Homo sapiens: one gene and its partners. The protein of the gene in region 2 purifies or fractionates together with the protein of the main gene of each other region. This does not show direct contact. Each region holds a gene or a part of one and is shown on either strand. Other genes may lie near its edges.

Region 1 (2,617 bases), on a different chromosome or scaffold from region 2:
TAAAGAGTGATGATATTGAATGTTCAGCATGTAGCACATTTCTGTGTGCCAGATGATAGTAGCATGCTGCTGAAAAAGCAACCAATATGTTTGTGAAATGAACAATGAATGAATGAACGAACAGTGAGAGAACAAGTATAAAGGAGGTTGGCAGGAGTCATAATTGCAGTAAGCTAGAGACTTTGGTGTGGACTTGGAAGGAAAGTCAGGAATGCAGTTAAGGGTGGGAAGAATGCCAAGCAAAACATGAAGGTAAATACACAGTACTCTTCACCCAGACAAGAAAAATTGGGCTTCCTGTTTCTAGGGTGCCTTCTTGAAATTTGTGGTTGGGTCACAAAGCCAAAAGGTAGCAGTGTGTGCAGTGGTTCACGCCTGTAATCTCAACACTTTGGGAGGCTGAGGCAGGCAGATCACTTGAGCCCAGGAGTTCGAGACTAGCCTGGGCAACATGACGATACCCCATCTCTACAAGAATTAGACAGGTTGGTGGCTACTTGGGAGGCTGAGGTGGGAGGAGTGATTGACCCCAGGAGGTAGATGCTGCAGTGAGCCATAATTGTACCACTGCACTGCAGCCTGGGTGACAGAGTGAGAGCCTGTCTCAAAAAAAAAAAAAAAAAAAAAAAGGCAAAAGGCACCTAGGCAATGAGTGGGCTGTAAGCCCTGTCAGCCCTGGGTCCTGGGTAGTCGCCCTGGGTGGGAAGAGAGACTACCGGAGAACAGGGGGTTCCTGGTGGAGAGGAGGGGGCCCTCGTGCCTCAACAGTGATTTGTGTTGTTTCTTTTGGCCTCCCTGTAATGCTTACGGAGCTGTGACCATATCACAGTGAAGGCTCTAGTTGCTTAATTACTTTTTGTTTTTATTTGCAGGTAGTTCCTGAAATGACTGAGATATTGAAGAAAAAATGAATCAGGATCATGCCTTAAAAAGAAAACTTTTGTTAAAGTATTCCACTGAAATCACAGATATTTGTGGGTATTATAACAATCATTGGAAAGCATGGAGAGCTACATTTCATAATTTGAGGGAAAATTTCTAACAGATGCCAGAATGCTTGTTTATGGGATTGCTGTGTTTCCTTTTAATTATTTGTGGTTCCAAACAATTATTGTTTGAACTTTTTAAATTCTGTACTAAAATCTATAATAAAGCTTTTCCACAGCTTTAAAACTATCAGAAATATGCCTAGCCTCTAGAGAAAATTGAAGAAAAGGAGTAAAAATTTTGTTTATTTATTTATTTTTTTGCCTTTCTTGTTCATGGAGAGCTCTATGTTTTAGGAAGATTGTAAACATGATTGTCTCCACCAGCCTAATCAACCTACTAATCTCATTGTTGAAGGGCAAACTTCATAGGAGAAGGTAACTGAATTGGCAAGTGCAGAGTTAAAAAAGCACGGCTATAAAGCATGAATATTATCTTAAACATACTCCAGTCTTCAGAAGACCATAGCTAATGTGACAAAAGCAGACCTGACTTAAACCTGACCCAGCTCCATGTATTTAGTTGGCTTAAGGTAAATTTCATTTTCCGTTTAATTTTAAGGTTTTGTCAGTTTATAGGACTTTTGTCTGTAAAGGAGGGAGAGTGGAGGAGGGGCTGCTTTGAGACAGCATGGCCTCTGATGCAAGCAGATAGTTTGATGTTATTATAAACATTCAAAATCCTGTGCAGAGAATGCTCTAGCCTTTCTTTTGCCTTCTGTTGGCTTCTTTTGGGCTCTCTTAGGAAGCACCCAGGCCTGTGTAGTCACCTCTGGCACTCTCATTCTGCTGCCCAGGGCACAGCTGAGGTCCAAGAGTGTCACCAGGGCTGCAGCTGGTGTGGATGCAGGCCCAAGAGCAGAGGCTGGTGAGGCTTTGAACAGGCCTGCAGGAAGGCGTGGGTAGGTAGGTGAGTAGAACAAAGAGGGCTGCCCTCCTGAATCAGATCTGCAGAAGTAGGAGTAGTGACCTGGATCAAGCAGACAGTAGGGAAGAGAAGGGAAGTGATAAGTGATGGAGGTGGCTAGAGTGCCTTTGTGTGACCAGCCTGGGGCCCTTCCCCAGCTGACTAGTGAACCCTTTCTGATTTGTGTCACAATCAGTTGCTATAAAACACTTTTAAAAGTTGTATCTTTGGCATTTCAGTCTTCTTTTAATGAGATGAGAGGAGAGCAGTAGAATGATGCCTCTTTGCAAGTAATGTCTGTTAGAATAGAAGAATCCTAGAATGTCTGAGCCCGGTGATTATCTGGTCAGACCCCTTGTTGTATAGATGGGCATACTGAAGCACAGAGAAGTGAAGAAGGTAAAGTGACTTGGCCAAGGCCACATGGCTTGAATCACCTTTGGGAGAGTAATTCCTATGTCTTGTTTTTATCTGTGAGGTTCTTCCTAAGAGGGCTAACCTTGCTCAAGATTTTTTCCATTTACCCCTCATCCCTGTTGGATGCTATAACTGGGGGACAGGAGAGATGGCAAAGGTGATGGCCACAGAGGCACCCCCAGTAGAAGGTGTGCTGGCTCAGGGAGGGACATCCCAGGTGGTGCCTCGGCTCAGAGTTGAACTGGTTGGTCTTTCTCCCTTTGCTCCCTCCTGTCATGGCTGCCCTGCCTCAGCCCCAAGCAGCTGT
Region 2 (5,303 bases):
ATTATAGTTCTCATAGCAAACTTTTGCTTTCTAAAATATTCTCGAGTTTGAACTTACAGTACTGTACTAACCCATGAAAAATCATGTTGTTCATGAATCACCTGAAGAAGCCATCTGTTGAGGTGGACTCCAGCAGCCAAAGAGAGCAGGCTTGTGTGTCCTGCTCCTCCCCGTCCATGGGTAAAGTGTTGTTAGGGAGTCTCATGCTTTAACACCCATTTTTTGTTTGTTTGGTTCTGTAGTTTTAAGTCATCTAGATTTCTAAACTCATATTAATAATTGGATGTTATGATTGTACTTTCTTACGCAGTTATGCTTTGTTAGTGGAAGAAAGTAGTAATGGTATTGAAAAGAACATCTGTGCAAGACAAAAAGATATGGAAACAGAAGTACAGGGAAAAGCTAATGATTATCTTCAGCAGCATAATAATTAATCTACAAAGTAATGATTCAGTCTTCCATCAGAGTGGCCACGGCAGCTGCAGAGATGGGAACTCTTTGTTCTCATTAAATTATCTTGTTAGGTCATTCCAGAACTCTCTCTGTGTGGTATTCTAAGGGCTTTCAGAGGGTCTTTCTGGGTCAGTTATTGAAGCTCTTTATGAGGCATCTGGACAATATATGGCAACTACATAGGACAAGGGTCAGCAAACTTCTGTAAAGGACCAGATAGTGAATATTTTCAGCCATACAGTCTCTGTTGCAAGTAGTCAGTTCTATTGTTGTAGCATGAAAACAGCCATAGACAGTATATGCAATATGAGTGTGGCTGTGCTCCAGTAAAACTTGACTTACAAAAACAGGCTGTGGGCTACAGTATTGTACTTTACCAATACTTGACATAGAAGAGGGGCATTAATGTGCCTGGAATGTGCCTTCCTAGTGAGACTTCATGAGGGGATTGTGGTATATAGGTTAAGGGTATGAACTAGCCCAACTGGGTTTAAATCCTGGTGCCGGCACTTATTAGCTGTGTAACCTTAGGCAAGCTACTTAACCTCGCTGTGCCTCAGTGTCCTCATGCTTCACATAAGGATAATTATAGTACCTCTGTCACAGGGTTATTATGAGGAATGAATAAATTAATATTTTTAAAGTATTTAGAACAGTACCTGGCACACAGTAAGTACAGTAAATAAAATGTGTTTAATAAATAATCTGAAAAATATGAATTTGATTACATAAAATAAAATTACTTTATTTAAAGATTGTGTCTCCTGCTAGGCACGGTGCCTCACGCCTATAATCCCAGCACTTCGGGAGGCCAAGGCTGGTGGATCACTTGAGCCCAGGAGTTCGAGACCAGCCTAGGCAACATGGCAAAAACCCTCTCTACAGAAAAATAGCTGGGCATGGTGGTGTGCACCTGTGGTCCCAGCTACTTGGGAGGCTGAGGTGGGAGGGTCGCTTGAGCCCAGGATGTGGAGGCTGCAGTGAGCTGAGATCATGCCACTGCACTCCAGCCTGGGCAACAGAGCAAGACCCTGCCAAGAGAAAAAAAAGACTGTGTCTTTTCACATTCCACCAATATACTGATAGCATCTGTCTCTCTGCATTCTCAATAGCATCAAATATTATTACAGTGGGGGAAAAACCTTTGATAATCTTGTTGGCAAAAATGCGTATTTTTTTGATTACTAGTGAGTTTATTTATTTATTTTTTTATTTTTCGAGATGGAGTCTTGCAGTGTCTCCCAGGTTGGATTGCAGTGGCGCAATCTCAGCTCACTGCAACCTCCATCTCCCGGGTTCAAGCGATTCTCCTGCCTCAGCCTTCTGAGTAGCTGGGACCACAGGCGCGTGCCACCACACCCGGCTAATTTTGTATTTTTAGTAGAGACAGGGTTTCACTGTGTTGGCCAGGCTGGTCTTGAACTCCTGACCTCATGATCCTCCCGCCTTGGCCTCCCAAAGTGCTGGGATTACAGGTGTGAGCCACTGCGACTGGCCAGTGAGTTTAAATATTTAATGAGTCTTGGCACTTTTTCCTTATTGAGCTCTATGAGCTTTTTCTGTAGAAGATATTAACTGTTGGAGCTTCATGTTCTCAGGTACCCTATCTTGAGTCTATAGTGAACCTTTTGAAGTTGAAAAGAGTATTTTTGCCTCAATTATAAAATCTGTATTGTTCCATAATCTTAATTAAGCTGATAAAACTTGTTTGTGCATCTTTGTGCTCATGTGGCAATAGATGGGGTTAGGGCTTGGTTTCAGTTTGCCTAGGGTTAAAGGAGGTTCACATCCTTTGTGTTACTGTCCAGTTTCCCCGCATGCAGTCAGGTTAGCTCTGTGAGGAGTGCCTGGTCATCTGTAATTCAGACATTAAGGAAGTACCTGGTGTGTGCTAGAAACAGAATGCAGAGTTCAGGCCAGGGTGAGGATTTCTGCCCTCAGGAAGATCACAGCCTTTTGACAAAAGAGGAGGCACCATTTGCCTAGTGGAAATCAGCTTCAACAAAAAAATCACCTGCTTTTCTCTACAAGTCCCCGGAAGAGATCAGTAGATAAAATCCAAATCCCACACCTGTCCTCCAGAGAGATGATTATTGTTAGTTACTGAGAAGGGAAATGGATGAAAGGCATATGTGGCACAGGGGTCACCGCAGGATGCAGAGGTCTTAGGGGGTGTGCCGTGAAAGGCCAGCTCTCTGTCAGAGGCTCTGCTCCTTTGTCGGAGCACGTGCCCTCAAGTCAGCTCCACTGCAGTGTGCGCTGGAACCTGAGAAGTTGCTGAGTAGCCGAGGAGTGGCTCCAAGGAGCCTGGAAAGCAGTCCTCCTTTGAGGACCATTCAAGGTGGAGTGTGACGTTTTGTCGATTCTTGAAAGGGAATTGGGAGGAAAGAGGAGGAATAAAGGGATGGGTGTAGGGCTGTGTGTACAGCATTTTATGTGTTTTCTGATTTATCTTCACAACTTTGAGACAAACTGTCACCCCCAGTTCACAGATGATGAAACAGATTCAGAGTGACAGAAGGACCAAGAGAGTATTCAAGATTGAACCCAAATCTGTCTCTCCCAAAGCCATGCTCTTCCAGGTCACACCTGTGCCTTGATCTGTCTTTATGTCAGGATCTGTGCAGTGGGGCATCTGGGTTTGAATGTTTTTTTAAGTACTATGATTGTTGGATAAATTGTCATATGAGATAGAAATAAGGCCATGCTGCAAATTTTGAAAATGTACAGCTTGATAAATGGGGGCAAACATGATCCAGGGTAAGAAGGGGCAATTTGGTGACTTCACAAAAGATACCATTTAATGAAAATTTACTAGTTTTTTGTTTTTCTGTCTCCCAAAACAGGACACTCCTGGGTTTATTGTGAACCGCCTCCTGGTTCCATACCTCATGGAAGCAATCAGGCTGTATGAACGAGGTATCCTTCTGACCCAGGCCAGGAGCAGCAGACCTCAGCTCCTGGCGCCACTGTCTGGAATTCTCAGTGTCTCTAGGAGGGGTCGGGCCGTGCACAATGGAGGAAGCAGTGTCTGTTTTCTAGCTTTGTGAGCTCAGCTGCACCCTGAGCCCTGGTACCTTTTTCACTGTTTTCCCAGGGCCTCCTGGCTTCCCTGTGGGCCTCTGAGAAAGGTTTCTGGAACTCCCACCACCCCCACTACAGTCCCAGCCAGAGCAATTGCATGGCCGGCCCAGATTGATATCCTGGATCTCTGCTTTTGATTAAAAGGTTTACTGCTTTTAAAAATAATCATAATGTAAAAATCACTAGGCTAGGAGATCTTGAAAGTTCCTTAAGGTTCTAAAACTTGTGACTGACAGGTGATTAGAAATATGTGACAAGGCCGATATGTGGTAAGGACAGTTTTTAGTAGTCTGTCCTTACTGAGTGATGTCATGATGTACTTTTTGTAACCTTAAGAATGGTGTAAACAGTTTTCCTCAGTACTTGATTGACAAAGAATGCTTTTCTCTGCTGTAGAAATATCAGATTTGGGACAGGGTCCAGGCCTCTAAATTGATCTGCATTCTCCTGCCTGCTTTCCCTCCCTGGTTTCTGGAAAGGTAGCTCTCATGTCTGCTTCAAAGGCAAACAAGCCTTAATAGGACTGGATAAAAAGCAAGTGTAATTGTTTTCAATTACTTCATTCATAAATGCTCACTCCTGAGAGTGTCATTTTTTAAACAAAACATTTACACCAGCTCTTCCAGAGAGATGAAAGCACATTTGCTTCCTCAAAATCTGCTTTAAATATTAAAACTTTTCTCTATGGTTTATGGAAGCAATTGCCTCACTTTTGCTCCAAGATCAAACCAACAGTTCTGGTTTATCTATCAACAAATATGCCTAATTACACCTCAAAGAAAGCACAGAGCATTTTACCCTACCTTGAAAGGCAGTTGTATGTCTTTTTTTTTTTTTTAACAAAATGTAATGTTTTAGAATGTAGCATGTGAGAGATCCACCTTTTAATGGTGTTTTCCTCACTGTCCATTTGATGCATTCTCCAATGCACCAAGTATCAGATGGTAAGTTGAAAGCCCTCTTCTTGTCTGTGGTCCCTTTCTGCATAGGTGCATGCCCTTTAGCCCTCACCATCCCTGGCCGCCTGTGGGCTGAAGCTGGAAGAGCAGGACCTGGCCTCAGGACATGCTCTTAGCTTGCTCTGGGCATGGGCTTCAACAGCCTATCATTGCTGGTCCCTCTGCTTCTTTTTCCACCACCTTCTCAGAATCTGCTTCTGAAGTTGCTGGGTGTCCTGCCTGGGGTGGGTGCTGCTTCCCTACTGCACACTACAGTCACACCCTAGGCCTCTTACCATGTCCCCCCGCCCACCACCTGCTCCCTCCTCTCAGCCAACACAGAGGAGTGCTCAGAGCATGCCCACCGTGCCATCTCCGTTCATACAGTTCCACCTTGAAGCTTCAAGCATCTGGAGGCTCCTTCTCGTCTGCCACATCTGTTCATCACTTTTGATTCCTTCCTGTCATGCCTGTTCCACCTCTTCATCCCACCTTTTCCCCATCCCAGTCAGGCTGCCTTCATGAGGTTCCTTAGGTAGCAGAGTAATTCACGCTACTCATGTCTTTTCCTGACTGGTCCCCGCTACTGCACTTACTGAGAAAGTATCATATTGTCCAGGAAGTTGAGACACCGCCTACTGCATCTGCCCACACACCCCCTGCACAGCCTCGGCAGGAGCTCTGTGACTGTTTCTGAACTCATGCAAGGAGAAATTTTCTGTACCCCACTGTTGATACACCTGGGGTTCCAGGCACATGGTTTGGCCAATGCTGCCTTGAGTGGTGCAGGCTCTCTGGAAGGATGTGTGTGCTGTTGTAGGTCAGGCC
Region 3 (3,500 bases), on a different chromosome or scaffold from region 2:
TGGGAGGCCGAGGCCAGTGGATCACTTGAGGTCGAGAGTTTGAGATTAGCGTGGCCAACATGGTGAAACCCCATCTCTTCTAAAAATATAAAAATTAGCCGGGTGTGGTATCACCTGCCTGTAATCCCAGCTACTTGGGAGGCTGAGGCATGAGAATCACTGGAACCTGGGAGGCGGAGGTTGCAGTGATACAAGATCGCACCACTGCACTCCAGGCACCACTGCACTCCTGCCTGGGAGCAGAGCGAGACTCTGTCTCAAAAAGAAAAAAAGAAGAAAGATCCTTTTGGGTGAGTTTAGAGGCTGGGAGGCCGAGGTGATGGTCACATGGGGGAGAATGAGGCCTCAGCCAAAGGTGACAGGACAGAGCAGAGACATGATGTGGCAGGAGAGACTGGGCTTAGCATGGGGAGGGAGGGCAGGGAGGAGGCAAGGACAGTGCCTGGGTCTGCCTTGGTAACACAGGTAGGAAACCCAGGAAGAACAGGAGGTTAGAGGAGGATCCTACAAGGGGAGTGTGAAGAGCCCAGGAGACATCGATGCAGGTTCAGGAGACAGGCCTGGGCTTGAAACAAAGACTTGAGAATTTTGGAGGGCACTGGGGAGCTATGGGAGTTCTATGAGCAGAAGAGGGGTGGGATCAGCACTAGGTGCAGAAAGAGCCCCCCTGGGCTTTGAGAATGGACTGGAATGGGAAATTGGAGGCCAGGAGTTAGGGAAGGAGGTTAGGGCTGGGTGAGGACCCGACCAGAACCTTCCCTGCCACACTGGTGCTCCCCACTGAGATAGGGGTACATGGAGCTCATCTGTTCCCCCAGGAGACCCTCGGGCACCACCTCTGCTCAGGGGTAGCTCATCTCATTTGAGGGCAAACCTCATGGCCTCAACCAGGGAAGGGGCAGAAGAGGGACGTCAGAAGAGCCACAGGCAGATGGGAGTGAGAAGAGGCAGGGAATTAGGGATGAGGCTGAGAAGGAAGGCCAAAGACTGCAAGGTATGTCAAGCAGAGCACGGAGACAGCAGAGCACAGCAGGCTCAGGTAGAGCTGGGGCCCCCGGAGAGAGATGGGGATCCCAGGGCCAGGTCAGTTCTGGGACAAAGAGGAGGCTGATGGGTCCAGGTAGGTCACTGGGTGTCCTGCCCAGCCCTGAGAAAGTCAGAAGAAAACAGAGAGAGATTATCAACAGCAGGGGCATCAGAGTACAGATCAGTCAACTGTGGCCGAAGGGCCTACCCGGAGAACAGGCCAAAAAGGCAGGGCCTGGGTGGGGCTGCAGAGGCCGAGGTGCTGGAAGCATGGCCTTTGCAGCCCCCTGCATTTGCTGGTCGTTCTCAGACTCCGATGTCCTACCTGTCCTGGGCCAGGGACAGTTCCTGGGGCCAGGGCCTCCAGCTGGGGAAATGCCGGATGAACTGGTCAGGATGCTGTTTGTTCTAGGAAGCAGATTCACAACTCAAACTGGCTTAAGCCAGAAAGCGAATTTATTATCTCACGTAAATCAGGGGCTTCAGGCACAGCTTGATCCAGGGTCACATATGAGCTGTAGGCTCCCCTCTACCTTGTCTTCACTGTCTGCATCTCCAGGCTCAGATCCCACCAGCCCAGTGACCCCAGCAGAAAGAAAGGAGCATCTTTCCCAAGGGCCCCAGCAAACTCCCAGGGCTGACTCTTCTTTGGTGCAGCTTGAGTCATGTGCCCCTCCCTGAACCAATCACTGGGCTGGGGCTAGAATGTCCTTGCTGGCCCAGACCCTGTTCATGCAGCTGCCCAGGGGCCACATAGGGTGGGACTCCTGAGAGGCTTTATACAGAGGGCAGAGACTTGACGACAGGGATGCCAGGTGGCCCCACATGTCCCTGGACAAGTGGCTGCTTATCTCTGGGCCCAAGTGAGGGGATCGTTCTAGACCAAAAGTCAGTGAACTATGGCCCAGAGCGACCTCTGATTTGTAAATAAAGCTTTATTGGAACATCACCACATACATTCATTTACATATTATTTATGGCTGCCTGTGTGCTACAACAGCAGCGCTGAGTCACCGTGACAGAGACCGTATGACCTGCAGAGCCTGAGATATTTACTACATCTGTTCCACCATAGAAAAGGTTTGCCAACCCGACTGGCTGCGGTGACTCATGCCTGTAATCCCAGAGCTTTGGGGGATCATCTGAGGTCAGCAGTTCAAGACCAGCCTGGCCAACATGTTGAAACCCTGTCTCTACTGAAAATACAAAAATTAGCTGGGCGTGGTGTTGGGTGCCTGTAATCCCAGCTACTCAGGAGGCTGAGGCAGGAGAATTGCTTGAACCCAAGAGGCGGAGGTTGCAGTGAGCCAAGATTGTACCATTGCACTCCAGCCTGGGTGACAGAGCAAGACTCCGTCTCAAAAAGAAAAAAAAGAAAGAAAAAGTTTGCCAACCCCTGTTCTAGACAGAGGCCTGAATGGTCCATGAGCTCCACTGATTGTCATACAGTCTTCTGTCTCTCCCCATTCAGGCCATCGATGATGACTGTAACCAGACAGGGCAGATGACAGCTGGATTTCTTGACTGGCCACAGGTGAGACTGGAGTGGGGAGCACCTGCTGAGGGCCAGGCCCTCATCCCTCAAACTTCATTTCTGCCTCAAGGCCTTTGCATTTGCTGTTCTCTCCTCCTGGAACACTGTTCCCTCGGATTGCCTCATGGCTTTCTTGTTCCCCTCCTTGAGGTCTCTGCTGAGGTATCACCTCTTCAAAGGGGCCTTCCTTGCCATCCTACGTGAAATACTCATGCCCACCCGCTCAACTCTAGGTTCCCCAGTCCCCATCTCTGCCAGTCCAATAGAAATGCAGGCTGGGGCCAGGCATGGTGAGTCATGCCTGTAATCCCAGCACTTTGGGAGGCCGAGGCAGGTGGATTACTTGAGGTCAGGAGGAGTTTGAGACCAGCCTGGTCAACATGTTGAAACCTCGTCTCCACTAAAAATTTAAAAATTAGCTGGGTGTGGTGGCGTGCGCCTGTAGTCTCAGCTACTCAGGGGGCTGAGGGAGAATTGCTTGAACTTGGGAGGCGGAGGTTACAGTGAGGCAAGATCGCACGCCACTGCACTCCAGCCTGGCAACAGAGGGAGGCTCCGTCTCAAAAAAAGAAAAAAGAAATGCAGGCTTGGCACAGTGGCTCACACCTGTAGTCCTAGCACTTTGGGAGGCCACGGTGGGAGGATTACTTGAGCCCAGGAGTTCGAGACCAGCCTTGGCAACATAGTTAGACCCCATCTCTACCAAAAAAGAAAAGTTAGCTGGGTGTGATGGCACATGCCTGTAGTACCAGCCTCAGGAGGCTGAGGTGGGAGGATCCCTTGAGTTCAGGAGGTCAAGACTGCAGTGAGCTGTGATCATACCACTGTACTCCAGCCTAGGTGAAAGAGGGAAACCCTGTCTCAAAAGAAAAAAAAAAAAAGAAGCAAGGCACATAGACAAATTTAAAATTTTTCACAGCTACATAAAAAAGTAAAAAGA
Region 4 (3,500 bases), on a different chromosome or scaffold from region 2:
GCCCCAGAGGCTGCTTTGTTTTGGTTTGTTGTTGTTGTTGTTTTGAGACAGGGTCTCACTCTGTTGCCCAGGCTGAAGTGCAGTGATATGATCACTGTTCACTGCAGCCTCGACCGCCTGGGCTCAACCAATCCTCCCATCTCAGCCTCCCAAGTAGCTGGGACTACAGGCACATGCCACCACACCCAGCTAATTAAAAAAAATTTTTTTATAGAGATGGGATCTCACTATGTTGCCCAGGCTGGTCTCGCTTGAACTCCTGGACTCAAGCAATCCTCCTGCCTTGGCCTCTCAAAGTGCTAATGTTACAGGTATGAGCCACTGCACCCAGCCTGCCCCAGAGGCTTGATTAGATTCAGGGTCAACTTCTTTGGTAAGAATACTTCATGGTGCCATAGGAAACACACCATATCTGGTCATCTCATTTTTTGATCCTAAAATTCATTGGTGGGTTTGGGTGAGCCATTTTGCTTTTTTAACAAGATAGTACAAACACTTCTTGCTGTTAGTAGTTGTCAGCATAACAGTTTCACCATCTTTATCAGTGTTTTGTGGTGTTTTCAATTTTTCCTAATCAACAGGAGGAAGACATCTTATTGTTTACTTTTAAATTCCCTTTATAGTTGTGCTATTTTACATTTTTCTGTGTGTTCACTTGTTTTATCTGTCTCTCATCAATTTCTTTTGACCCATACCTATTTGATTTTTTTGATGACCTTTGGAATGAATTTGGACAAAATCCTTAGGTAATGTAGATTTTAAGCTTTTCTCACTCAGTACTTTGTCCATTCTTTGTTGCTTTTTACCCTTCATTATGCCATCTTTTATGTATTGAAGTAATTTTGATATTAGATAGTCTAATCTGGTGATCCTTTTCCTTGTCAAGCCTGGACTTCTAGAATAATGGGAAAGAAATAGCACCAGAATTTGGAATCTTTTGAAGTTGAAGATGACTGCAGGATTCAGCTGCTTTTCTCTTTTATTTTGCCAAAAAGAAAAAAAAAGGCCTAGGGAAGTCATGACTTACCCATCTTTACACAATTAGTTGGGGCCAGAGTTGAAACCAGACACTAACTCTCCAAAATCTTTTTTCCCTCCTCATTCTATCACTATCTCTAATGAGTGACTTAGTTAATTTGGAATGAGAATGATGGATTTTGTATTTTGGTTAAAAAAAAAATCAAAGCATTTTCTTACCATAAATTATGTATTTTGTGGAGGCTTGCTTCTTATTAGAATACTATTACAGCTATTATATCTAGTGGAAAAGTACTATTTCTTTCTTTTTTTTGAGACAGAGTATTGCTCTGTCACCAGGCTGGAGTGCAGTGGTGCGATCTTGGCTCACTGTAACCTCCGCCTCCCGGGTTCAAGTGGTTCTCCTTCCTCAGCCTCCCAAGTAGCTGGAACTACAGGTGCATGCCACCATGCCCAGCTAATTTTTATATTTTTAGCAGAGACGGAGTTTCACCATGTTGGCCAGGAGGGTCTCAATCTCTTGACCTCATGATCTGCCCACCTTGGCCTCCCAAAATGCTGGGATTAGAGGCGTGAGCCACCACACCTGGTTGAAAAATACCTTTCTTTCTTTCTTTCTTTCTTTTTTTTTTTTTTTAAGATGGAGTCTTGCTCTGTCGCCCAGGCTGGAGTGCTGTGGTGAGATCTCTGCTGACTGCAGCCTCTGCTTCCGGGATTCAAGCGATTCTCCTGCCTCAGCCTCCTGAGTAGCTGGGATTACAGGCACATGCCACCACGCCCAATTAACTTTTGTATTTTTAGTAGAGATGGGGTTTCACCATGTTGGTCAGGCTGGTCTCAAACTTCTGACCTCGTGATCCTCCTGCCTTGGCCTCCCAAAGTGCTGGGATTACAGCCGTGAGCCACCGTGCCCGGCTGAAAAATACCATTTCTTATTCAGTTTTATATACTTTAAATTTTAGAACCACTTTGATCTCTTTTCTTTTTCTTTTTCTCTTTTTCTTTTTCTTTTCTGACAGGGTTTTACTCTGTCACCTAGGCTGGAGTGCAGTGGTACATTCTCAGCTCACTGCAACCTCCGCCTCCCGGGTTCAAGTGATCCTCCTTCCTCAGCCTCCCAAGTAGCTGGAACTACAGGTGCGCACCACCATGCCCAGCTAATTTTTATATTTTTAGCAGAGATGGGGTTTCACCATGCTGGCCAAGCTGGTCTCAAACTCCTGACCTCAGGTGATCCACCCGCCTCGGCCTCCCAAAGGGCTGGGATTACAGACATGAGCCACCATGCCCGGACAATTTATTTATTTTCTTTTTGAGACAGGGTCTCTCTGTCGCCCAGGCTGGAGTGCAGTGGTGCGATCATGGCTCACTCCAGCCTCAACTTCCCAGGCTCAAGTGATCCTTCCACCTCAGCCTCCCTGGTAGCTGGTACTATAGACACGCACCACCATGCCTGGCTAATTTTTTATGTTTTGTGGAGACAGGATCTTACCATGTTGCCCAGGCTGGGTCTCAAACTCCTGGGCTAAGCAGTGTCCCACCTCAGCCTCCTGTAGTGCTACGACTACAGACGCAAGCCACCGTGCCTGGCCAACTTTGAGAATTTAAAGTATTATTGTTGTTTAAGAGTAAAAAATGATCTGATTTTGACCAATATTTTGCCCAACAGGAAGCCAGCAGACCTGCAGAACTTGGCTCCCGGGACCCACCCACCATTTATAACTTTCAACAGTGAAGTCAAAACGGATGTAAATAAGATTGAGGAATTTCTTGAAGAAGTCTTATGCCCTCCCAAGTGAGTATCAAGGAAAATACGTATGAAAATATTGTCACTTCTTTGAAGCTTGTGTTATTTGTCAGTAGAGATCTTTCTCGCAGCATTAATTTGGAATGACTAGGACTCTCTTCTATGTTTCTTATAATTAATGCTACACAGATATAAGAATTGGCTTCCAGCTAGGCCAATCAGCCATACTAAGAAAGGTGGGGATTTGTCTAAGCTGTAGAATATGTGGTAGAAACAGATTTGGGATGTGTCTGATAGGTCAGGAAAGACTGGTTATTTGTGGACTGTAGGTCTCAAACTGAGAGAGAAGTTTAAAGAGGAGAAGGGGTGGGGAAAGACACATTCCAACTGAACCCAGTAAGAATGTCTTAGCAGGAGTGTGGCACAGGACTGCAATGAGATTTGATTTCAGTTCATTTTAAAGGTAACTTTCTAAAGCTATAATCCAAGGACATTGACTTTTCCGACTGTGTCCCTAGGATTCAGAGTTTTTATTTACTTACTTCTTTGAGGTGTTCCAGATCTCTAGGTCCTGGATGTACTGTAATGATAGTTACCTAAATTGCAGATATGCAGCTTTGCATCATACTGTAATATTGGCATAGATTCAAAGCATTATTTGTTTCTTTTAGGCTTTTCCAGTTTCATTATCCTGAAAATTGACATGTTTTGTTTCTACTGACCAAAACCTTTCTTACTGGTTAACTTGACTGTTGCCCTCCATGTCCAGATATAT

What was found.
Region 1: the proteins of HADH (region 2) and ETFA fractionate together in Homo sapiens (co-fractionation; one large-scale study listed by BioGRID). This does not show direct contact.
Region 3: the proteins of HADH (region 2) and ETFB fractionate together in Homo sapiens (co-fractionation; one large-scale study listed by BioGRID). This does not show direct contact.
Region 4: the proteins of HADH (region 2) and CLIC4 fractionate together in Homo sapiens (co-fractionation; one large-scale study listed by BioGRID). This does not show direct contact.

The regions. Positions count from the first base shown.
Region 1 is NC_000015.10:76,214,853-76,217,469, reverse strand, and holds the end of ETFA (electron transfer flavoprotein subunit alpha, mitochondrial), read left to right. Parts: intron 1-872; coding exon 873-911; 3' UTR 912-2,117; downstream 2,118-2,617. UniProt on the Homo sapiens protein: Heterodimeric electron transfer flavoprotein that accepts electrons from several mitochondrial dehydrogenases, including acyl-CoA dehydrogenases, glutaryl-CoA and sarcosine dehydrogenase.
Region 2 is NC_000004.12:108,024,389-108,029,691, forward strand, and holds part of HADH (hydroxyacyl-coenzyme A dehydrogenase, mitochondrial isoform 2 precursor), read left to right. Parts: intron 1-3,299; coding exon 3,300-3,372; intron 3,373-3,550; exon of another isoform or gene 3,551-3,681; intron 3,682-5,303. UniProt on the Homo sapiens protein: Mitochondrial fatty acid beta-oxidation enzyme that catalyzes the third step of the beta-oxidation cycle for medium and short-chain 3-hydroxy fatty acyl-CoAs (C4 to C10).
Region 3 is NC_000019.10:51,349,389-51,352,888, reverse strand, and holds part of ETFB (electron transfer flavoprotein subunit beta), read left to right. Parts: intron 1-2,497; coding exon 2,498-2,560; intron 2,561-3,500. UniProt on the Homo sapiens protein: Heterodimeric electron transfer flavoprotein that accepts electrons from several mitochondrial dehydrogenases, including acyl-CoA dehydrogenases, glutaryl-CoA and sarcosine dehydrogenase.
Region 4 is NC_000001.11:24,811,447-24,814,946, forward strand, and holds part of CLIC4 (chloride intracellular channel protein 4), read left to right. Parts: intron 1-2,647; coding exon 2,648-2,773; intron 2,774-3,500. UniProt on the Homo sapiens protein: In the soluble state, catalyzes glutaredoxin-like thiol disulfide exchange reactions with reduced glutathione as electron donor. Can insert into membranes and form voltage-dependent multi-ion conductive channels.